3 separate regions of the Homo sapiens genome follow, and regions 1 and 2 are each linked to region 3. Evidence: fine-mapped expression QTL. A gene starts in region 3. Each other region holds a variant in brackets. All regions are shown on one strand. Distances are from middle to middle.

What was found. PIP is the estimated chance that this variant, and not a neighbour inherited with it, causes the effect.
Region 1: its variant is fine-mapped to the expression of KIF25-AS1 in prefrontal cortex (GTEx, PIP above 0.99). The same link has a PIP of 0.9 or more in anterior cingulate cortex and cerebral cortex.
Region 2: its variant is fine-mapped to the expression of KIF25-AS1 in cerebellar hemisphere (GTEx, PIP 0.98).

Annotation. Positions count from the first base shown.
Region 1 is chr6:168,016,078-168,024,349 of GRCh38, reverse strand. KIF25 (kinesin family member 25) reads right to left here. Exons shown (of 13, transcript NM_030615.4): 5 at 6,310-6,377. Among named protein-coding and RNA genes, the nearest start is that of KIF25, 23 kb to the right of the region's middle. The variant G/C (reference allele first, on the strand shown) is at 4,809.
Region 2 is chr6:167,951,978-167,959,977 of GRCh38, reverse strand. It overlaps AFDN (afadin, adherens junction formation factor), which reads right to left. Exons shown (of 34, transcript NM_001386888.1): 30 at 7,791-8,000. Among named protein-coding and RNA genes, the nearest start is that of HGC6.3, 24 kb to the left of the region's middle. The variant T/C (reference allele first, on the strand shown) is at 4,019.
Region 3 is chr6:167,993,151-168,001,422 of GRCh38, reverse strand. It overlaps KIF25-AS1 (KIF25 antisense RNA 1), which reads left to right and starts at 4,346. Exons shown (of 4, transcript NR_103750.1): 1 at 4,346-4,517; 2 at 4,822-5,185; 3 at 5,320-5,910; 4 at 6,959-7,236. KIF25 (kinesin family member 25) reads right to left here and starts at 3,752. Exons shown (of 13, transcript NM_030615.4): 1 at 2,553-3,752; 2 at 2,103-2,331.

The DNA of each region.
Region 1 (8,272 bases), 23 kb before region 3:
AAGGTCAGCCCAGTGAAGGATTGTAAAAAAAACTGTGTGTCACGAGGAAGCAAAGTTCCACAAGTGTTTGCATAAACAAACATGATGAAGCTAAGCCATGGGGCTATTACTCCAAAGTGCTCATAAATTTGCTTCTTTTCTACACTGATAAAAAGTATCATTTTTCTCTATACTGTTTTTAGTGCACAGACATGAGAAAAAGCTTTTGCACGTGAAGACTGGCTTTGCTCTTACAAATTAAATCCATTGAACCACCAGCACCGTGTATGGAAGTTTCTTCAGGAAGCTACTTTATTACATGTGAAACTGATGAAAATTTTCTTGAGTATTCATAGTGAGATTTTTAAATATGATTATTTTAGGGGAAAAAAATCAAGTTATTTGGTTTTAGATATACAAATAAAATGTTTTTCAGTAAATAATAAAAATGCATGAGACTATACAGATTCTAATATTATTGCAATCCTTGAGTAGTAAAACACATTCTGCAAAGTGCACTGTCTCTGAAGCACCAGATCGCGACACATGGTGGCTAAGATACAACTCCCTTTCTCTCCCCTAACCAACATGTAAGTAATGCAGATAAAATAGAAACAAAATATGTTTTAAAATATGCTGCTGACGTTGAAGGGAAGAAAGAAAGGAAACTGGCTGGGCACGGTGGCTCACGCCTTTAATCCTAGCCCTTGGGAGGCTGAGGCGGATGGATTACTTGAGTTCAGGAGTTCAAGACCAGCCTGGCCAACATGGTGAAACCCGGTCTCTATTAGAAATACAAATATTAGCCAGCATGGTGGCTCACGCCTGTAATCTCAGCACTTTGGGAGACCAAGGTGGGCCGATCACTTGAGGTCAGGAGTTCAAGACCTGCTGGGCCAACATGGTGAAACCCTGTCTCTACTAAAAATACAAAAATTAGCCGGATGTGATGGTGCATGCCTGAAGTCTCAGCTACTTGGGAGGCTGAGGCAGGAGAATCGCTCGAACCCAGAAGGTGGAGCTTGCAGTGAGCTGAGATTGTGCCACTGTACTCCAGCCTCGGCAACAGAACAAGACTCCTCAAAAAAAAAAAAAAAAAAAGGAAGAAGGAAACTTCCTAGGTGCAAGAAATGAAGAGTGGAAAAAGGCTGGGTAGAAGGCTTGAGTTGGTACTGCAAGCACCCAGGCTGAGGAACCAATCCAGACAGAAGCAACAGGGCTTACAAGGCAGGGTTTTCTGCCCTCTGGAGACAGCAGGCAGGACATGGAGGTGCCATGGCTGTGCAAGTCCAGGGCACTCAAAGATAGGCCTAGTCCCTGAAAAGGGGGTCCAGATAAGTGGTAAGAAAGTATTCCACGTGCCTGAGAGTCTAGATGAGGAGTCAGGTCTCCTGTGAGCAATCAAAGCCTCACACCTGCACCGCAAGTGAGCACAGAATCCAAATGCAAGGAGCCCACAGGGCAGAGAAATCACAAACCACAAACGTTACCTGAAAACTGATTCAGAACTTTTGTGAAACCCCAGGCCCTTGCAGGAAAAATCATAGTTGCAAACCCACAGCCAAGAGTACACAAGTCTCCTACCAAAAAAAAAAAAAAAAACAACAACAACAAACAATCAAAAAAACTCCTCACCAAAGATAAGTTCGCAGTAAAAACTTATAAAACACAAAATAAATAAATCACTACAGTCAGTGGCAACAAAGATACAAGTAATACAGCAGCCGCCACAAGAACCAGACACAATAGAACATTCTGAAAGAGACTTAAGAAAACAATGTTAAACATGAATAAAGTCATGCCTGTAATCCTAGCTACTCGGGAGGCTGAGGTGGGACAATCACTTGAGGCCAAGAGTTCAAGGCTGCAGAGAGCTATGATTGCAGCACTGCACTCCAGCCTGGGTGATAGAGTGAGAGTCTGTCACTAAAAAATAAAAAATAAATCAGTAAAGATACAAAATAAGGAACACAAAACATAAGGAAAATGGAAGACTATTTTTAAAAGGGTAAGAAGATTTAAAAATGAGCCAAATAATTTACAAGCACGAAAAACAGATGGGTTAAATGGAAGTTTACCCATGGATGAAGAGAGAATAAGTGAATTAATTAAAAGATTGTCACAGGAAAATTACCCAGAATGCAGCAGAGAGATACAAGGAAGGCGATCATCTCAAAAGCGGGTAATGGTAGAGACACAGATGGTAGAATGAAAAGGTCTAATCTATATCTAATAGGAATTTCATTAAAAGGATATAGATAGAAGGAGAGAAAGTACTTTTAAAAAGATTTTGCCTGATAATTGTTCAACTTAAAGAATGACATTAATTCAAAGATTAAAAGTCCCAAGCAGTATTATAAAATAAAATAAAACAAACAAAAAACTCAGCAACTGCCGAGTGAAACAGTGCAGCTTCACTTTGATTTGGAACACTGAAGTCAGAGAGAAAACTCTTAAAAGCATCTAGAGAAAAAATTGATAACGTTGAACTTTACCCATGCTCTGAGATCCTGAACGACCGCAAAGGCTAAGAAATCCCAGCACTATCTGTAATTTCCAGAATGGCTTATTGCAAAGAACATCCCTTCCCTACCAGACTTCGATAAAATGCACAGATGCCTTAGATAAGACTTCTCAGACAGAAAATGGAACAGTGGCTACCAGCAGCTGAGGGAGGGGAGACAGGCAATTCAGTGTTTAATGGGTTTGGAGTTTCAGGATTGGATGACAAAAAACACTGTGAAGATGGATAGTGGTGATGGTTGCACCAGATCATACTTTGTCCCATTGAACTGTATACTTAAAAATGGCTAAAATGGTAAACTTTTATGTCAGGTATATTTTTCTACAATTATAAATTTTATATATAAAAGCACATGAATTGTATAAACAGAAATAGGTTAGCACAGTATGTAAACTCGTGCGTCATTTGAAGCAGAGAGAAAGGGGAAAACTTCACCATGATCTGTCTTCGAGGGAGCTTCTCCTCTGAAGCAGCGGAAGCTGGGGAGGCAGGGTCGGTTCTTGCTGCTTCTTTTGATGACTTTGATGTTGGGACAGATATTTTATAGAAAATGGGTTTCTCCTGCTCTTCCAGAAAAATTCTCTTAACAACATGGAAGGTAGATATCTCAGAATACTATAAATTAAGAGGACAGCCCCCACCATTAAAAGAGTAAAACTATTAAAGTCAGCTGCCTGCATCTGTGTGGGTTTATTTCTGAACTCTTCTCCGTTCCATTGATGATGTGTCTGTTGGTTTGCCTCTATCACGCTGTCTTAATGATTTTAAGTCTTTAAATCGGGTAGTGTGAGTCCTCCAACTCTGTCCTTTTCCCAAGTTGTTTCGGCTATTATAGTTCCTTCACCTTTCCATATAAATTTTATCATCAGCTTTTTCGTTTCTACAAAACATCCTGCTATGATTTGGGTTGCCATTGTATTGACCGCCTTTATTTGTTTTTAAAATAGCTTTATTGAGATATAGAACAGCTTTCCTCTGATTAATGTTAGCATTCAGGTAAATATATCTTTTCCATCCCTTTCCTTTTTCCATCTTTTAAATCCTCTTTCCCTTTTTCCTGACATTTATTTTTGATTGAGGATTTTTTATAATTCCATGTATCTTTTTTTGTTAGCTTATTGTATATATCTCTAGCTTGTTATTGTCTTTGGTGGTTGTTTTAGGGTTTACCATATGTAACTTAGAGGCTGCCTGCAATCGGATTCTATCGCCTAACATACCAAATAAGGACCATACGAAAGTACACTTGCACGCCCACTCCCAGCCTTCACACTGTTGCTCACGTGCATTTTATGTCTGCATGTGTCATGAGCTCCACAATCCATTGTTATTTTTCTTTAATCAGTTAACTAGATTTGGAAGAGTTTTTTTTTTTTAATAAGAAAAAGCGTCTTTTGCATATGCCCACATGTCCTTCAGGACAGAATCCGTTGTACACTCCTTGTGGTGTGTCTCTGGCGATTAATTCTCTCAGCTTTCCCATGTCTGGAAATGTCTTTGTATTTGAAAGACATTTTCACTGGCACAGAACTCTGGATGGACTGTTTCTCTTTCCGTACTTTAGAGGTGCTGGTCCTGTATCTTTTGATTTGCATTGCTCTGTGGAGAAGCCTAAGGTCATTTTCATGTCTGACCCTGAGTCTTCAACGTGTCTTTTCACTCTGGTCATTTTATCTCTGGTGTTTCTCTGTTTGTTTGTTTGTTTGTTTGTTTGTTTGAGATGGAGTCTCACTCTGTCACCAGGCTGGAGTGCAGTGGCACAATCTCAGCTCACTGCAACCTCCACATCTTGAGTTCAAGCGATTCTCCTGCCTCAGCCTCCCAAGCAGCGGGATTACAGGTGTGCACCACCATACCCAGCTAATTTTTGTATTTTTGGTAGAGACAGGGTTTCACCATTTGGCCAGGATGGTCTCGATCTCTTGACCTCGTGAGCCACCCGCCTTGGCCTCCCAAAGTGCTGGGATTACAGGCGTGAGCCACCGCGCCCCACCTCCGGCCGACTTCTTCAAATGTTCTCTGAGCGCCCACTCCCGTCACCTTTTGGGACTGCAACTCCCGCTGTATTTGGCTTCTTGGAAGCCAATACATCATGGTCCCATGGCGCCATGATGCTCTGTTCACTTCCTTTTTAATTGTGGTAAAAAAATACATATAACAAAATTGACATTTTCACCATTTCAAGTGTGCCGTCCAGGGGCCTCAAGCTCATTCGCACTGTGGGGCTTGCGTCAGCCCAGCCGTCCCCGGAGCCCACTCTGTCCACTCGCTATGGAGTCTCCCTGGTTTCACGTTGGTCATTTCT[G/C]TTGCTGCGGCCTCAAGCTCACCCGTCTTTCTCCTGCATCCCAACCAGTACGTTCGCGTCTCCTCTATGGCATTTTTTTCATCTCCAGATGTTTTATTTGGGTCTTTTTATAATTTTTCATATCTCCACTCAACGTGTTTACATTTTCCTCTACTTCCTTGAACACACAGATTTATAACAACTGTTTTCACCTTCTTTACTAATTCTATCATTTGTGTTATTTCTCGCTCTATTTCCGTTGCCTGAGTTTTCTCATCAGAGGTCATATTTTCCTACTTCCTTGAATCATGTCTGGTAATTTTTGATGTCAGACTTTGCTAATTACTCCTAACTGGGTGCGCCATGTTTTGACCCTCCAATCCCAGTAATTTTTCTTCGGCTTTATTATGGGATGCCAGCAGTTACTTGGAAACAACTTGACCCCTCGAGGCTTGCATTTAAGTTCTGCCGCATGGCACCAGCAGCCTTTACTCCAGGGCTAACTTCTCACTCTACCCAAGGCCTTGTGTATCACGAGGTATTTCTGCCCCGGCGGGAGCACTCACAATTCCCAGGCCTGTGTGAGCTCTGCAGACTTTCTCCCGGGCTCCTCCCCGGTGGTTCTTTCCTGGCCTCCTCCTTCTTACCGCTCCTGTGCTGGTCAGTGCTCAGCGGAGGCTTGAGGGGAACCCTCTGCCCTTCTCCAGATGTGACCCTATCGAGCGACACAGGCTGCTGCCGGGGAGAGGAAGAGGCCTCAGGCACTGACGTCCTTCCGAGGAGCAGGAGGACAGAGCCTGGGAGCAGGACCACTCAGCCAGCCCTTGGTAGCTGAAGGAGGATGAGCAGGGCTTTCCAAAGGCCACGCGCATTGATTCTGAGCCTTCCGGGGCTCTCCTACCACCCTGGGAATACACCACGACCCAGTGCCGAGGAAGGCATCTGACAGAAAGCCCTATTGTTAGTTGCTATCATCACAACGAAATTACTATCAACAAACTGGATATATAAAAAATGTCTATTTACTTAAAACAATGAACATATGGATTACAGATGTCCCTCGTCTTATGATGGGGTTGTGACCTGAGAAACCCATTGTAGGTTGAAAATATTGCAAGTTGAAAATGCATTTGATACACCTAATTTACCAAGCATTGTAGCTCAGCCTAGCTTGCCTTAAGTGTGCCCAGAACACACACATTAGCCTACAGGTGGGCAAAATCACCAAATGGAAAGCTTGTACACTAAAGTGTTGACTGTTTCACGTAGTTTACTGAGTACTGTACTGAAAGCAAAAACCAGAAGGGTTGTAATGGGCACTCGAGACATAGTGTCTACTGAATGTGTATCTCTTTCACACCTTCCTAAAGTTGAAAAATCTACCTCAGGGACCGTCTGTATTTATAATCACAATTAGTCAAATGATAGGATAAATTACATATTTCATTACTCAAACCCCAATGCAAAATTTGTATTTTTAATATGGAAGTTTGCTTTATAGGACATCTTGAAAAGCACTTACCTTTCAAAATGATATGTCTTATCAATCAGAGGGTGGCCAGGACGATCACATTTCACCAGAATTGTTTCCTGAGAGAAAAGAGTAAAACGACGTCATAAGACTTTGTGTGCTGCGTTAATTAAACACAAGCCCCACCAACCCCAGCCTGCCGCCTGTTTTTGTAAACAACAAAGTTTGCCTGGAACACAGCCCCGTCCTTTGTTTACAGACTGTGTATGGCTGCTTCTTCCTCAAGGGCAAAGCTGGATGATTGAGTTGGAGACCACGTGGCCTTCAACGACGAAAATATTAACTCCCTGGCCCTTTCCCAAAAAGGTTTGCCGACCCCCATAAAGAGAAGAAGAAAGTCGCATCTACTGGGGAACACACAACAGAGCTCCTCAATCTGCCACAGGCTGAGGGTTCAACACCCAAATTACTGACTCTAAGGGCCCTTGACAGTTCGCAGGAGAGGTTTTCAAATGGCAAAAAAATCACATCTCAGACATCATTATATTCCATCGTAACCAGTGGAACTAACATGTCTGTTTCAAAAACAAATTTCGATCTTGCTGGACTGTATTCTTAAATTATATCCTGTGTAAGGGAAGCAAAGGCATTTTTCAGCAAGAAATCTGAAATTAGTTTAGTTTCACTTAAGCAAAGAAAAGATGAACCTGGATTGGTTCCAGTTCTAAAACAAAATGTGTATTCATGAAATAGCAGGGGTGATAGGGAGAATGAAAACCACAACTGCAGTGGCGAATAACCCAGAGGCACTGGATTTTTTCCATAACAGTGTTTAGCGGATGCTAGGATGATACCTCCACACCTTCTTCTTAGTAGTGTGTGTGTCTGTGTGTGTGTGTCTGCAATAACATGTCAAAGAAGTGGCCTATTTTATAAAGACAAAAGCTGTGAGATTCAACAGCTGTTTGTGGTTGTTGTTGCTGTTTGTTACTCGCTTACTGCTGGACGGGCAGTCGTGGGCAGCTGCCGGACTATTGCTGCCTCTGGATTCTGTGAGGTCTCCGATGTGAAATGCTGAGATAATCAAATAGTGAACCTGTCCTGTCTTGCCAGAGGTGAGAGGCCGTGGGAATCCCCGGCGTGTCTCTCAGTGGGGCAGCTCAGGAAGCAATGACGGAACGCCAGCCTCAGCCCCGCGCTGCCTGGGGACAGAGCCTCGGCTGTGCCTCGTAGGCAGCCTTGGGTTGCTCCCTGCCCCATGCCCACTGCTATTGTCCAGTGTAATGAAACAGCGCCCTGGCTATCCCCTAACTGGCCTCTGCCTCCAGTCCAGCACCCCTCCCACCTGTCCTTTATGTTGTTGCTGTAGAAATCTTTCTCAAATGCAAATTAGAAAAGAAGAAAGCAGATGAAGTCACCGAAGCCAAAGAAAGAAAGTTAAGAGGGAGGGAGTGGGTGACGCAGAATGCCACCTGTTGGGGAGAGGTCGCTTGGGTCCTTGTTTAAAACTCTTTATTGGATTTGGTAGACTGGGAGGTCACTTGCTACCGTGATTTGTATCCAATTTCCTGGGATGACTTTTGGGAGAGTGGGTGGGGATGCAGGCCCCACCACAGTGACTCTGGCAATGCCGGGAGGAGCAGCCGGTGGCTGGGGCGGTCCGTGGTCTCCATCGCAGCACAGAAACGACCACCAGGATGTGGAGGTTGCGCGTGCTCGTGCTCCGGCACGGCTTTCACAGAAGAAGCTTATGTCTCTGCTGAGTATTTACTGGGCAGTCACTGTGTACCAGAAACTGTTTCGGAACCTGCATGTTCTTACATGATAATGTCACATCCCCTAAGCCAGAAGCAGCTCTTCAGTTCCCTTCACGCTCAAAACACCGAAGCAAAACTCCGACACCCGCCAGGACCAAGCCCCTGGCCTCGCCATAAGAACAGACCTCCCAGTCCCTAATCCAACCGCCAGCCTAGGCCCTTTGCTCCTTTCTCGCGGCATATTTTCATTTTTCTGC
Region 2 (8,000 bases), 41 kb after region 3:
TTAGATTAGCACTTTGATTAAAAGAATGAAAAGTTACATGCTACCAAAATAGCCTTGCAGGAAGTGATCTTTGAGGAGAGTGCAGAATAGATTAAAAAATAACTATTACCCGATGAATCAAGACCATGCAGACTGAAAGTTATTCTAAATCGAGAACTACACTGGGATTTGAAAGCCAGTATGTAGCAAGCTTGAACCAAGGTTCTGCTATATGGGTAGTCCACATTCCCCAAAACAGGTATTTTCAGGTTTTATATACATATATATGTGTGTGTATATGTTGAGATCTGTGTGTTTATAATTTTGTATCATGAAAATGAAACTGGTATCTGAACATAAAATGGGGTCATAATACCCTTTACTTTTTGACAAATTACTGAAAACACGACTCTGTTAAAGCCCTTAAAAAGCCTTTTACTCTACAGACTTTTTCTGCCTATGCTCCCTCCCTTTAAAAATGTCCACCCTAAAAAAATTTTAGGGACAAAAACATGAAGAAAACACCTGATCATTTATTACAAATTAATGATTGAATCGGAGTACCTCTGGTAAGTGACATAACACCTGGTTTTTAGACCAAGCAAAAGTCTACTCTATGTCTTAGGGACCGATTTCCTCATTAGGAAACTGAAGTCCTCTCTCACAGTGGTAGAATGTATTAAATGACACAGGAAAAACCATCCACTGTAGCACCTGGTCCTCAGTAAGTGCTAGCTCCCTTCCTGTAGCACAGCCCACACACTTTTTTCAGATTTAAGTAAAATGACCATTTTATTAGAAGTTGTAAGATCTAGAGCTTAGCTGGTGAAACGCCCTTGTGGCAGAGACTTAACACCGTAATCCACAAGGAAGACAGTGTGGCTCAAAGAGGCCTACAACAGAAACTTGAAGTTCTTTTAGGGCAACTGTTTTACGCAATCATACAAACTTTGTATTCCATTCTGCAATATATACGTGTTGGTTTTAATACATATTTCTTCTCCTAATTCCTTGAGTAAAACTGAGACTTCCTGAAGATGCACTGTGACTACACTGTGGCTCTGATATTCTGGGCAGGGCCCATTTTCATTCTAGAGGCACTCCAATTTGAATAGACAAAATACAGTCTGACTTCCCCCAGATAGATTTCTCTGAAGAAACAATTCTGAAATTAGGCTTCCTACTAATTCCTGCTTGAAATTTTTATAAGGCTTTTAATTCAACCCCTTCTATACCTGGGATGCTCAAGAGGGGCATGTCCAATTTCTACAGTTCCACGCAAAAACAAGCAAACAAAAACAAGAAAGCGGAAGAGGAGGGAAGACCTAGCTTGGGCTTTCATGTAAGGAAAGCAGCAGAACCACGGAACTCTTTGAAAACATCTTTTCACTGGTATTATTACCCCAAGGGGGAGGAATTTCTCCTGTGAGTTCTCATGTTTTCTGAGTCAGCAGATGATCCATTAAAACGTGTTAACAAGACAAACCTGAGCTTAGCCACTGAGAGATTTGTCAAACCAAGTAAATTTCGAGAAAATGGTTCCTGCCACTACAGTGTTACAAAAAGAGGCATTTTTGTGTCCTAGAAAGGGCACGTAATATGAATTCAGAAAACTCTCGTTAAAACCTTCACTCTCACCTGATCCATGTGATACAAAGCAGAGTATCCCTTATCCAAAATGCTTGGAACCAGAAGTGTTTCAAATTTTGGATTTTTTATTTTTGGACTATTTGCATATATGTAATGAGATTTCCTGGAAACAGGACCCAAGTCTAAATATGAATTGATTTCTGTTTCATATACACTATATATATAGCCTAAAGGTAATTTTATAACATATTTGAAATAATTTTGGACATAAAACGAAGCTTTGACTACAACCTCTCACTGAGGTCAGGTGTGGAATTTTCTACTTGTGGCATAATGTCGGTGCTCAAAGAGTTTTGGATTTTGGATTCTGAATTTTCAGATTAGGAATGTTCAACATGTACTGGCAAAGTCTCTCCCATGGTGGGTTTGGGGACCCTGGCTCTCACGTGCTCTGTGTGATACTGGGTCAATCTCTTCCATGCTGGCTTAGGCCCTTGTGCTCTGCCATAGAATAGCTTTGTCATGAGGAAATGAGAGGAATATATGCAGTTATGTGGCAACCTGGAGCAATGAAGGCACGAATCACACACCTTGTCATCAGGTGGAAGGACTAGCTACTTCTCGAGGCTGCAGCCAGGCAAAGCTGCAGCCACAGTCACGGCCACCTCCATGGTCCTAACTAACCGGCTACTCAAGTTAGAGACAGGTTCCAAGGCTAGGACAGAGTACTCTGCCAGGAGAAAGCAGACATCCTGACGAATTCCAGGTGTCCTGGATTTGCCCATGCGATATAAAGGAAAAGCCCTAACGACACAATGGGCTTCATCATAATCTAGTGCTGAAGGAGATCCCTCCAGCAAGTCAGACTTTGGTTTGAACATGACTTACACACCATCTCAGTCATTAAAATAGGAAACAACCTAGTAACAGCTTTACTCTTGAGATGCTAACAGTCAGGAAGGTCACACACCTTCGAGAGCTTGGGACCTTGGCCTGGAATCCGATCCCACTCACTCGACTGCCTACCACACTCCAGAACTCTTCTAGAAACTTGGACAAAGGTCACTGTTCCCATGGAGGTGGCGCTACCCAGAAGAGACAAACATGCCTAATGATGAGTAATGTGTATAGCATGTCCACAGAAAAACACACAGGACACAGTGAGGCCAGTGGGCCCCTGATACAAAGCAGCATGGGCAGGTGGGCCCCCCCCATATGAAGCAGTGGGGGCAGGTGGGCCCCCCCAGAAAGGTGGCATCTGAGAGACACCTGCATGTGCCAAGAGGGTCAGCCATGGAGACAGGCAGGGACCCTCCCGACGGCCCAACATGTGGAGGGTCACTAGAAGGCAGGCAGGCAGGCTGGAGGGCCAGTGGGCAAGGGTGTGAAGAGGAGATGAGACCCGAGCAAACTTAGACCGCCTGTCTAAGTGAAAGGAGAGACTTAGGAGGGCTGTGAGGACATTCTCGTGAGACTGCTGTATGCTATGTCAAGGCTGTCCTGTGAAGGGACTGGGGGACAGTACCGAGGGATCCTGCCAGTCTCTCGCAGTGACCCCGGCAGGAAAAGGAGAGAGGCTCTGGTCACGGGGGCACAGAGATTGGTCAGGTTGTGAGGAGGTCAAGCCAGTAGAGTTTCTGAACAGAGAAAAAAGGGGGTCATGCATGACTGTGAGGTTTCTTGCCTGAGCAACTCGAAGCATCAGCTGAAATGGGGAAGGCTGAAGGCAGAATGATGAGCAGTGCAAGGTGAGTGAAGCAGACAAAGATTTCACTTTGAGCATGCTGCATTCCAAAAGTCTTACTTGACTCCATGTGGAGATGTTACATGGGCAGGTGGATATCTGAGTCTTTAGTATGTGAGAAGTTTGGACTAGAAATCAAATGAGGATATTGCTGGCATCAAAGTGGTGCTACCGTCTCAGGTCGGAAGTGAGCACAGAGGATGGAGAAGGTAGGCCCTGGACTGACAGGGGTGATGGGTCACAAAGAGACCAGAGGGAAGAGCAGAAACGAGTGCAGGCAGCCTCCCAACTTTATGAAACTCAGCTGCTTCCAAACAGGAAAAGACCTGCCTCATTTCTCTAATTACCTACCTGAAAATCCTGTGATGTGTCTAAGAAAATATCTTAAGAACCATACTGGGTAGTGTCACTCCCTATATAGTCACATATTTGCCCTTATCCTTATTAAGGAGAGGGCTAATATCTTCACAGATGAGGGTCTCCTAGGGTAACCTGCCAATTCTTACATAAAAAGAATTCTATAGTTTTTTTTTTTTTTTTTTTTTTTTTTGAGCCAAAGTCTCGCTCTGTTCCCCAGGCTGGAGTGCAGTGGTGCAATCTCTGGTCACTGCAACCTCCACCTCCTGGGTTCGAGCAAGTGTCATGCCTCAGCCTCCTGAGTAGCTGGCATTACAGGTGCCCGCCACTGTGCCCAGCTAATTTTTG[T/C]ATTTTTAGTAGAGACGAGGTTTCACCATGTTGGTCAGGCTGGTCTTGAACTCCTGGCCTCAGGTGATTCACCTGCTCGGCCTCCCAAAGTGCTGGGATTACAGGCATGAACCACTGTGCCCACCCAAGAATTTTATAAATAATGAGGTGCTGTTAATAATATGTACTGGGGAACTGGGCTAAGAAATGCTCAGAAACATGTGGTTAAGATCAATATTAATACTCAAAATAATTATCTTCTAAAGAAAGAAACTCTCTGAATTATTTCTATGGAACAAAAACCTTATTGCAAGCATTATTTTACTGTTCATGTGTCACAGAATTCTTCATAGTATAAGAAACTCTCTTTGGGCCTGAGAGCTGGCTGGTATCTTCAATGCCTCAGGTCAGTGCCCACCGTGTCATGGATGCTGAGCAAGTATTTGCTGAATGAATATCTCACACTAAGGTGACTCTGATCAATATCTTCCAGCTACACTTATGTACATCAAAACACACAAAGAAGTAGGGAGAAAAATGTATAACTTTTAAATCTTTGTTTCATGTAAAAAAAAAAATGCAAAGCTCAGAAAATATGCCTTCCAATCACCAAGGAGGGAAGGTGTTTGTAAGAAAGGTTCCTCTCTAAGGTGTTATTACCGCTGTGCTAAACTGAGGGGGGAAGGAAAAGGGGACTATTATTTGGTGAAAAGGCCACTAAAGTCAAACCTTGATTCACAGGTTTTAAATGTACCGTCTGATATTGGCTTTTGTCTTTATAAGTTGACTAGAATTTGTCTTCAAGTTTATATAAATATATCAGAGTATAATTGTCTAGCAGGTGATAAAGATACCATACGCAAGCATAATGGGCCCTAAACGATGAGCCAAACTTCCCCAATATGACAATGAACACTTTGAATTTACAACAGACCATGAACCTCAAGTATTTTTCAGCAGACTGATAAATTGGCATGGCTGATAAACTGAATTAAAATCCATGTTATATTATTAAAGAAAACATAGAATACATGTTCACTGGAAATCTCTTACTCTACCAACAGACAGTTATATCTTAACTGGCAAATAATGTCAATACCCTTTCAGCTGAGTTTATAACAACTGAATATTTAAAATCTATGTCTAATGTGAAAAAAATGAAATAGATTACTCATTACAAAATTTATTTCATTTGCTCATGTATTTATGACTACGTAAGAATACACGGAATCAATTTATGACTGAAACCGAGAAAAGGTCAAAACCATAAACAAACAGTAACACTTAAAATTAACGGAGAAAAGCAAAGAGTAACTAAATCTAGGAACATTCAAAGGCATGCTTCTAAAGTGTCAGGGACTCCATCTCCTGATGGAGGACACCCCTAAGGAGAACTGGATCTACTGAAAACATCAAACAGCCACCACTGAAAGAAAAGAAAATCAAGACAGGAAAAAAGTACCAAAGGGAAAGAAACAAGAACATACCAAATCTAGAACAGAGATTGCTGGCATAGCAGTCTGCTGCAGGTAACAGAGAAAGAAAAAAAAAAAGAAAGATGAAGTGTGGAAAAAAAAGTTAGGTTTAGACCTGTAATCTGCCATCGGCATATTTTCTCACTATCATGCGTCATCTGTGTTTCGACAACTTGATGAGAAAGGTAAAGAACTACAGACTAACTTCTAGTATTCAGAAACAGAAAAATGCCCACATGGTATTAAATGAGTTTCATCATTAGGATACATAGAAAATAAAAAACAGCAAAATTTCCCTTAGCTTTCTTATTTGGAGACTAAGATACTAATTGTAACAGAACTACTAAGCAAAAAGCAAATATTTTTTACTAAATTTTCATAAGAAACTTTCCAAATATCGCAATTCATACTAAAAGGCTTTGAAATATTCAGTGTTTTAACCCATTTGGAAAAACTCTGAGAGACCTTTAAATAAAAGTTTAGTCCTCACAGAAAAAGATACTTACAGAAATACTACAAGGCTAATTTTTCATTATTGTCAGGATACAGTTATAACAATAAGAAATGCTGATACTGTTGACTCATTTGCCATACACAACAGTTGTATATTCAGAGTTGAAAATGCAGCGAAGGAAAAGACATCTTTTCATCTTTTGGGGTGTGGGTGACACAAGGCCATGAACGTCCTTAGGATCCTAACGAATCCATCTTAGTGCACCCAGGAGCGACACTGGCCAGAGCAGAGGAGCATGCACCTGGCGCCAGCAGGCCCAGCACCTTTCAGAGAGCTCTGATGGGGAGGGGAATGCAGAGTACTTTTAAAGTACTGTAATTTTTAAGCTACTTTTAAAGTAAAATAGCTATTAATGTAGTGGTTGGTTTTTCAAATAAAACAGTGCTTACAGTAAACACAGCTACTCATCAGGAAGTTTACTACTAATGACTTGAGGAATACTAATAAAAATAGTAGTAAAACAATGTAATAATTCACACTTTGGCCTCATTTAAGAAACTTAAGTGTCTAAGGGGATTCAAGCTGAATTTTGGGCAAAGTTTTATATATACACACATTTTGGCTGAGATATGTATATATTAAGAAGTATGTGTGAGAGAGACTTTTCAGGAAAAATTCACAGAGCAAATCGAAAAAGAATCACACTACTGGGCTCCAAGGATCTAAGGACTCACAAATTATTATCTAAGGTTAAATTTCATTGTGAGGTAGAAAGATTAAAATGTCTGACCTAATAGCTCCTGGTAGAGCTTTACCATTAACAGCATAAAAAAACAGTTGAAATTAGAAACAGAATCCAAAAGATAAAAAGAACATGGCTCTGGCCATCTTTTCTCAAAATATTGCACTGTGTCTAAAAAAGAAAAAAAAATCACTAAAACTCATGAACACAATATGGTCAATAGCATTCTCTATAAATTAATATTAATAAATGCCCAAATTAATAGCAGTAAATGCCTCTTAACAGTTCTCTTTATAGAGTAACAAAGTCTTGCTTTTATCTAAAATTTCTGCATCACAATTTATTGTGTTAAACGAATTTATACTTTTGTTAGTTTATTTAAAACAAAAATCATTTTCATACTGTGGAGAAATAAGAATAAAATCAGTTCTCAATATCTTTATGCTACAATTGGAATATAATTGTTTATTACCTTAACAAATGCTTGCTTCATCAACAGTACAACTACTGTGAAGATTCTATTTTTGGTAATGACTGTAAATGTAATGATCTGAACAGTTTCTTTTGTTCACCACCACAAAATGCTGACAAGACCAGGGGCCAGACAGTCATCTGCCCTGTGTTTCTGTAAATAAAGTTTTATTGGTACAGAGACACACCCATGTGTTTACTTGTGCCTGTGGCTGCTTTTGTGCTACAACAGCAGAGCTGGGGGTTGCCAGAGACCCCGTGGCCTGCAAAGCCTAAAGTATCAATCTGGCCCTGGAAGAAAAATTTTGCCTACCCTGGATCAAGATTATTACTGGTCATTAACAAATACTTGTTTTCTCAACTGGAAGTGTTAAGGAAAAGGATAATTATGAGTTTGCTAATGAAAACAATCAAGTTCCATTTGAATTGTATTTAATACTTGTCAAAGCATGTCTTAAAAAATTTAGCCTTATAGGCCTGACTCATTTCTCTACGACATCAGCCAAGAGTAACACATACAATAAAACAGTATAAGCCTAGGGGCCCTTTTAATCCTTATCACGATCAGGGGCCTAGCTATCCCCATGGGAAACACGCAGAAGCTAAAATAGGGACCACAGATGGGCACAGCCAAAGCACTCCCCCCTTTACCCTCGCTCTTCGTTCAGCCTCCAGGCGCTGCATGATCAGCATGGTGTCCACATCATCGTCCTCCTCCTCCTCGTCATCTTCGTCCTTCTGCTTCGACTCCTGGAGTCTCTTCTGGAACTGCCACTCCAGCATGAGCTTGCGCAGCCGGTCGCTCTCCTCGGCGCTGCGGTCCGGTTTGCTCTGGAGCTCCTGGATCTCCTTGCTCAGCAT
Region 3 (8,272 bases):
TCTGGAAGTGCCATGTAAAAGGCAAGTTCAGGAAAGCTGATCACCGCTGGGGGCCATTAACTACAGGCTGAGCATCCCTCATCCAAAAACCTGAAATCCAAAATGCTCCAAAATCCAAAACGTTTTGAGCACTGAGATGACGCTGAAAGAAAATGCCCACTGGATTATCTTGCTGAACCGGTCCATACAAAACACGAACATTCGAAAATATGAAACAATTCAACATCGGAAACACTTCTTCTGGTCCCACACATTTTGAATGAGGGCCACTTGGCCTGTCCCGCGCCACACTGACGTATCCGACAGGCCCAATTTCCAGTCCTTTGACAAGTGACAAGTGGCCACCAGTCAAAAAAGTGCAGAAAGTACTAGAGCCAGCACAATCATGTCTAAACACTTTGAAAAGAAAAAGTTTCAATGACTATCAAAAGATCCGAATTTCTTGTTTCACACTGTAGAACCGGCCAAGTGCTTTCTAAAGACCTTCTCAAGTCAGGTGCTAAACTGCAGGATGCAAACACTGTGAGGCTCAAGCCAGGCCCTCCAGGGAAAGCTCATTTGGACAGATTAAGTGGAGGAAACCAAGACCAGAAAAACAGCCTGAGCAAAGCAAAGTCAGGAGTGGGACCCAGTGCCCCTAGCAAACTGGTGCATACGGCCAACCCCATATGGCGTTGGGACAGCCGGGAAGCGCAGCACCTTGGAGTGGCGGGAGGGTCAGCAATGGGAGTGGGGAGGGCCAGGTGTGGTCAGGATGGGAGTGGGGAGGGCCAGGTGTGGTCAGGATGGGAGTGGGGAGGGGCAGGTTTATGGAGGGAGGGTGAGAAGGTCAGATGTGGTCGGCAATGGGAGTGGGGAGGGTCAGGTGTGGTCAGGATGGGAGTGGGGAGGGGCAGGTATAGACAGGATGGGAGTGGGGAGGGTCAAGTGTGGTCAGGATGGGAGTGGGGAGGGTCAGGTGTAGACAGGATGGGAGTGGGGAGGGTCAGGTGTAGACAGGATGGGAGTGGGGAAGGGCAGCTTTATGGAGGGAGGGTGAGAAGGTCAGGCGTGGTCGGGATGGGAGTGGGGAGGGCCAGGTGTGGTCAGGATGGGAGTGGGGAGGGGCAGGTGTGGTCAGGATGGGAGTGGGGAGGGGCAGGTTTATGGAGGGAGGGCGAGAAGGTCAGGCGTGGTCGGGATGGGAGTGGGGAGGGGCAGGTGTGGTCAGGATGGGAGTGGGGAGTGTCAGGTGTGGTCAGGATGGGAGTGGGGAGGGTCAGGTGTAGACAGGATGGGAGTGGGGAGGGTCAGGTGTAGACAGGATGGGAGTGGGGAGGGTCAGGTGTGGTCAGGATGGGAGTGGGAGGGTCAGGTGTGGTCAGGATGGGAGTGGGGAGGGTCAGGTGTAGACAGGATGGAAGTGGGGAGGGTCAGGTGTGGTCAGGATGGGAGTGGGGAGGGTCAGGTGTGGTCAGGATGGGAGTGGGGAGGGTCAGGTGTGGTCAGGATGGGAGTGGGGAGGGTCAGGTGTGGTCAGGATGGGAGTGGGGATTTCCAGGGGGTTTGTTTCATGGGGAAGGAAGTAAGTCATATTGAGTATGGTTTTCAAGTAAGCATTTGAGTAAATGAACTTCAGATAATTTTGCTGTATCCATGAATACCATCAAAACTTTCTCTAAGTCAAAAGTATCAGTTGAGTCAATACTCACTGACTGCCTGCATGGCGGAGTGGGTGGTCTTTGGGGTTCATAAAGGCAGGGTGCTCCCTTTTTGATATAGTGACATAAAGGGAAAAGTCCATTCAAAGCCTGTCCCTGTTCGGTCGGACCCCGCAGAGGCAAACCACGAAAAGACGGACGCCCTCTCAGGTGCAGAACCACTACCACGCACGAGAGGCCTGCTCAGGCAGTTTGGCCTTTTGCAGGCCGTATTACAGAGGGCTGCAGAGTGTCCACTGTCAGCAAGACAGCGCCATCCTTAAACAGAGCCCCCACCCACAACTCGAGAATGTCCTGCTTTGGGACCGGGGACAGGACAGTAGACGGCATTTAAAATTGTGCCACTCCTCTGTCTTTTCCCTGAGCACACAGACATACACACACCGTGCAAACACAGGTTACCTGCTCTGCAAAACTGGATCGTCGGATTCACTATCAAAAGGCAACAAAGGACGAATCCGACAGTGAACTCTGATATTTCGTTTCAGCTCCTGCAATGATCAAGAGGTCTGCGTGTCAACCCGGGCGCGAGCCTGCACTGCGGAGCATCCCCCACTGAACGTGCACCGGGCACCAGCTCCTGAGACGCGGCCGTGAGATCTGCAGCACCTGTCTCCACTTCGAAAGACCCCTGCAGGGTAGTGAACAGTTATTTTATTTATTTATTTTTTGAGCCAGAGTCTTGCTCTGTCGCCCAGGCTGGAGTGCAGTGATGCAATCTCAGCTCACTGCGACCTCCGCCTCCCAGGTTCAAGTGATTCTCCTGCCTCAGCCCCCAGAGTAGCTGGGATGACAGGTGCCCACCACCACGCCCAGCTAATTTTTGTATTTTTAGTACAGAAGGGTTTTTACCATGTTGGCCAAGCTGGTCTCGAACTCCTGACCTCAGGTAATGCGCCCGCCTCGGCCTCCCAAAGTTCTGGGATTATAGGCATGAGCCACCGTGCCCGGCCATGAACAGTTATTTTAAACTTCTGGATTCATACTTCACAAATGTGTTCACTTGGCAAAGGGGTATCCCTTGGTAATAAGTACCAAGGAAAATCCCTTTGAATGGCATCCTGGGCTCGACATTTTAGGCATTTTAGAGGGGATTTTGGAAATTCAGTATCTGTCATATTTCCTTGATTTAATGACTGGAAGGAAATTAGAAGCTTTTTATTCTCATAAACTCCACTGGTTTCCAGTGAGCAACACATCTTCTCCGTATGTGCTCAGAACTTGCCAAATCCATTCTGAAATCTTGTCTTGGATCCACAGCAAGTTTATCCACCCTGTCATGCTGAGCAGCTCCTTCTACATTTTGAAAACCAAGTGGGTGTCATAGGCCAATGATTTACAGCCTCCGTCTGGTCTCTATGAACCCACAGAAGCTGGGATCAGCCTCTGCCTGCATATTCTCCATGGGCCGCGCACTGCACGCTCCTCAGCTAGACCAGGAGACCAGGCTTGAGGTGGAACACTCAGAAACTTCCACAACCAATTCTTCCTTGTGGGACTTGACTCCATCTTAGGAAGGTTCATATTATCTTTTTCATGCTCCAGATTAAAAAAAAAAAAAGCTGCAGCGTAGTGAGACTTTCTGAAGTGCCAGGTGCTTCACTGATATCTCCCTTTGTCTTTATAGCAACCCAGAGAGGTGGTGCTATTGTGAAGATTAAATAAGAAAATACACCAAATGGTTTCAAAAGTACTTGGTACACAGGAAGCACTCAATAAATGTTCTCTTATATCAATGTTTGGAGCACTGAACTACATAAGTAGATGCTTAAAATGAGAATTATTCTTTGACACATCTAACAGCTGGAGAACCTCTCGGCATGGCCAGGGAAGAGAAGCTTCGCAGGAACACTGGCTTCGTGGGCCTCGGGCAGGTGGAATTCGGAGAAACTGGCCAAAGTGCAACCATCAAAATCAAACCTCACAGAAGCGAGGGTCACCCACTCAATCATCCACCTTGGCATCCTCGTGTTGCAAAATCAAACCCTGAGACTTTACATTAAATTTCATGGGATCTCAGGTCTCATACCTTCGACCAAGAAAGCACGAGAGCCTCTGGGTCTTGTTAATGGGCAGTGAGAGACGTGGGTGGAAGGTGCTGGTGAGGAAGGGGCAGGGGCAGGGGCAGGGGCAGTCTCCACCGGCATCTCCAGTTACAGCAAAATCCTTGCTTTTCCCGCGCAAGTCCCCATCTCTGCAGATTCCCCCGCCCCCCATCTCTGCAGATTCCCCCGCCCCCCATCTCTGCAGATTCCCCCGACCCCCCATCTCTGCAGATTCCCCCGCCCCCCATCTCTGCAGATTCCCCCGCCCCCCATCTCTGCAGATTCCCCCGCCCCCCATCTCTGCAGATTCCCCCGCCCCCATCTCTGCAGATTCCCCCGCCCCCATCTCTGCAGATTCCCCCGCCCCCACCTCTGCAGATTCCCCCGACCCCCCATCTCTGCAGATTCCCCCGCCCCCCATCTCTGCAGATTCCCCCGACCCCCCATCTCTGCAGATTCCCCCGCCCCCCATCTCTGCAGATTCCCCCGCCCCCATCTCTGCAGATTCCCCCGCCCCCATCTCTGCAGATTCCCCCGCCCCCAACTGCCCGCTACAGCTCTTTCCTTGTGCCTCACAGCAGCCGGTCCCACTTCCTGCATCGCCACCAATGTGGCCCAGGCCACCAGCCCCCGTGACACTGCAGCCATCCCCTTTGCTCCCCGTCGTGGCCTCCCGACCGAGCAGCCAGAGTGACCCCGAAAGCCTAAATCAGCCTGCGGCGCCCTCACCCGTCCTCCAGCTGCCATCGCCTCCTGGGTGAAGAGGACGCAGGTCGCAGCCCCCGCAGCTCTGCCCCTCTGCCCTCCGGCCAGGCCGCCCCGCTGTCCCCCTTGCTGTCCACCTCTCTGTCCACCCCTGCTGTCCCCCCCCGCTGTCCCCCCCGCTGTCACACCCCCGCTGTCCCCCCCCCGCTGTCCCCCCTGTTGTCCCCCCGCTGTCCCTCCCGCTGTCCCTCCGGCGAGGAGGCTTCTGCACGTTCTGCGTGGGCCTCTCCCCGGGGCCGCCCCAGGTCTCCCCTGACGCCCACACCCACCACCAGGCTGTTGTGCGGGACCTTCCTTCTCTGCCTCTCCAGCTGGTGACGCGCACTGACGTCCTGCAAGGCCCGCTCCAGGTGCGCCACCTTTGACTGGCATGCTGAAAGGACAAAGGGACGGAGGCATTTTACCGGAGAGGACATCCATGGGGCCCAGCAGGTCAAATTCCTTTCTCTAAGTATGGGAGACATTTTTAAAAATAATGGAGTCCTCCAGGGCCGGCTGCGTGCTGTGGCCTGTGCTCCTCACTGCTTTGGACCCAGGCTGCGCTGTCTCCACCACGACCAAGGACTCACAGAGCTCGCCTGGGGGACCTGGCCCCACAGTCACCCCGTCCGTCATCAGCCTCAAATGCCATCAGCCCGTGAATGCTGCTCCATCGTCTGCATGGCAGCCAAGGAGGTCTCTGCTCCTAAAGCACCTGGGAGCCCTTGGTGAGGGGGGAGTGGGGCAGGGAAGGAGATGCTGGGGCCCAGCTCTGCTGCTGTGGATTGTTACAGTGGCCTGGGCCTCTACTCCCGCCTCTGTCCTACCAGGATGGTGCCAGGTGATGTGGCGATGAGTGGGCATCGCGTGGGGGCCTTGGACGAGCGTGGACACCCCAATCCCCAGACTGGCCATTGCCGTGGAGGCAGCGTGAGTGTGACATGGAGCTCGGTGTCGTGCTGCAGAGGACGCCTCGCGGCTGTACGCGTCATGATAGCCAGGGACCCCTCCACATGTCACTTAGCCAAAGGATGCAGCCCAGCCTGGGGCTTTCTACCCCAGGCCCGAGGACCTGCAGGGACAAGGACCCCTCAGCGCAGATGCAGCTCTCATGAGGCCTGAAACCAAGCTGGACTTGCAGAACTGCGCACGCTCCCTTTCTGAAAGAAACACCCGTTACCGGGTCCAGACTGAATGTGGGCGTAAGAAAGCGGGAAGGGTCCCCCACAGCAAGAGAGAGACCCTCCCAGTCACTTGGTCATCTGAGCCTTGAGTGTGTCCGGCCCCAGCCACCAGCCTGTCCCCACTATCCCTCTTGTCAGCACGGCTGAAAGGAGCTGCCTGGGCACCTGAGGTGGCTGAGGCTCATCTTTGAGGAGCATGGAACTCGAGGGGAGAAGTCGCGCCCCCAGGGAAGCCAGGTAAGGAGGCCCCGAGCCCCTGAGCCTAACGCCTGGGCACAAATAAGCCGCCTGGGGACCCCTCTGTGTGGCAGGACTGCACCGTGGCTCCCACAGGCAGGGCCTCAGCAGGCCCTGCCTCCTCACACGTCAGCATTCCCTCTGCGGGAGAGCCTTGGCGGCTCCCTGCTTCTCCCTTTGAGTTTCACCTTTTCAAAGCTTAAGTACACTGCTTTTCACAAAATAACATGATTGTCCCTTTCCCTGGAGCACATGGCTTATAAGAACACAGGCGTTGCCGGCTGTGGTGGCTCGTGCCTGTAATCCCAGCACTTTGGGAGGCTGAGGCGGGCAGATCACCCGAGGTCAGGAGTTCGAGACCAGCCTGGCCAACATGGTAAAACCCCATCTCTACTAAAAATACAAAATTAGCCAGGCGTGGTGGCAGGCGCCTATAATCCCAGCTACTCGGGAGGCTGAGGTGGGAGAATAGCTTGAATCCAGGAGGCAGATGTTGCAGTGAGCTGAGATGGCGCCACTGCACTCCAGCCTGGGCGACAGAGTGAGATTCTGTCCCCCGCCGCCCCCCGCCCCCCAAAAAAAGAACACAGGCATGCACACGTCACTCCTACAAACACGGCCTTAGGGGAGTTACTGAGCAGAGTGCACTGAAGAAAACTAGGCTACAGCAGTGATTTCAATAAAACATCATGTAGCCTCGCAGAAGATCAGTACAGGTTCCAAAGTTTCCACACACCTATTTTGGAATATCAGCAGCACAACCCTTGACCAAGTTCCTAACTTGACCATCATCTCTTTGGCCTGTGGACACACTGAACACTGGGCAGAAGCTGTGAGCATGAGACGAACGTGGGGATGGTGCTATTTGGTTCTTTTGTTTTTTTGAGACAGAGTCTTGCTCTGTCGCCCAGGCTGGAGTGCAATGGTGCGATCTCGGCTCACTGCAAACTCTGCCTCCCGGGTTCAAGCAATTCTCCTGCCTTAGCCTCCCAAGTAGCTGAGATCGAAGGCATGCGCCACCACACCCGGCTAATTTTTGTATTTTTAGTACAGACGGGTTTCACCCTGTTGCCCAGGCTGCTCTCAAACTCCTGGCCTCATGTGATCTGCCCGCCTCGGCCTCCCAAGGTGCTGGGATTACAGGCATGAGCCATCGGGCCTGGCCGGCTAGTGCAATTTGGACGATGAGTTTAAAACTGCAGAACCAAAGTAACCTCTTCCACAGGCTTCAAGCACAGTAGCTGAAGATAATAAATCCATTATAACAAAAGAGTAGCCAAAATGCTGTGGCATTCTTAGAAATGAAGAAAGAACTGAACTGATAAGACAAAAAAAAAAAAATCTCACGTCATATTATAGGAAACTCTGACACAGAACGCCCAACGTGGACACAGGTGCCAGTTCAGCAGTGACCGTCAAGACCGGGGAAGTGCCCTGTGGTGACCAGGAGAACAAGGAGCTCCTCCAGCAAGCAGGGCTGCAGTGGGAGCTGGGAGGGAGCAGTGCACCTGCCAGCGTGGCCGAGTCACACAGTGCCTGCCCTCACCTGTGGAATTTGGTGTCAGCTAAAAGGAAGAAGAAATGGAAACTTAAATTCTAGCCGGTCATTTTCTTAAAACTGCAAACATTTCTCTCGAGTGTGGACTGGCCCGGCTTCGGTGAAAGGTGCCCTCCTACCTAGCAGGGTCTCGGCACTCTGCTGTGTTCTTTGCACCGCGGTCACTATTTCAGAAACACGGTCCTGATACTCATCCTGATAATCTCTTAAGAGCGCCCGAGAAGAAGAATGAAACGCCTGTATATCCTGGTTAAGTTTCTATAAAATAAGAACATACACGATTCATAAAATTATATGATTAATGATCACAGTATAATTACATAAGAATTTGTTATATATGTTTCTATAGAATAATAACATACCCACACAATTAATATAAGGGATATGTTGTTAACTGGAAGGGTGTAAAGCAGAAGTTCTTCGGCCCGGGCCTGTCGATGCCCGCCAGGACTGTTTTCATGCTGCCTGTGCCTCGGCTCACTTACAGAAGTTCTGACTCAATACATCTGGGATTTCTACTTTCAAAGCAGTACATGTGATTTTATGCCCTTAAAGTATTTAAGAAACAGAAAGTCAAGTGTTTCACCAATTTCCGTAGGAAGGGCCGCTCACTGCACGGTGGGGCGATGCTGGGCGCGAGCCGTGTTTCCGTCTATTGTTGACTTCCTCACGATGCTGGCTCAGGCTCAGAGCCTCTCATCACCGCCTGTGAAATGGGGACCACCCTCCTAATCTACTATCCAGACCTGCCTTCTGGAAGCTCAATTATCACGAGCACATGGTGGAAAACGTGGGCCGGTGAAA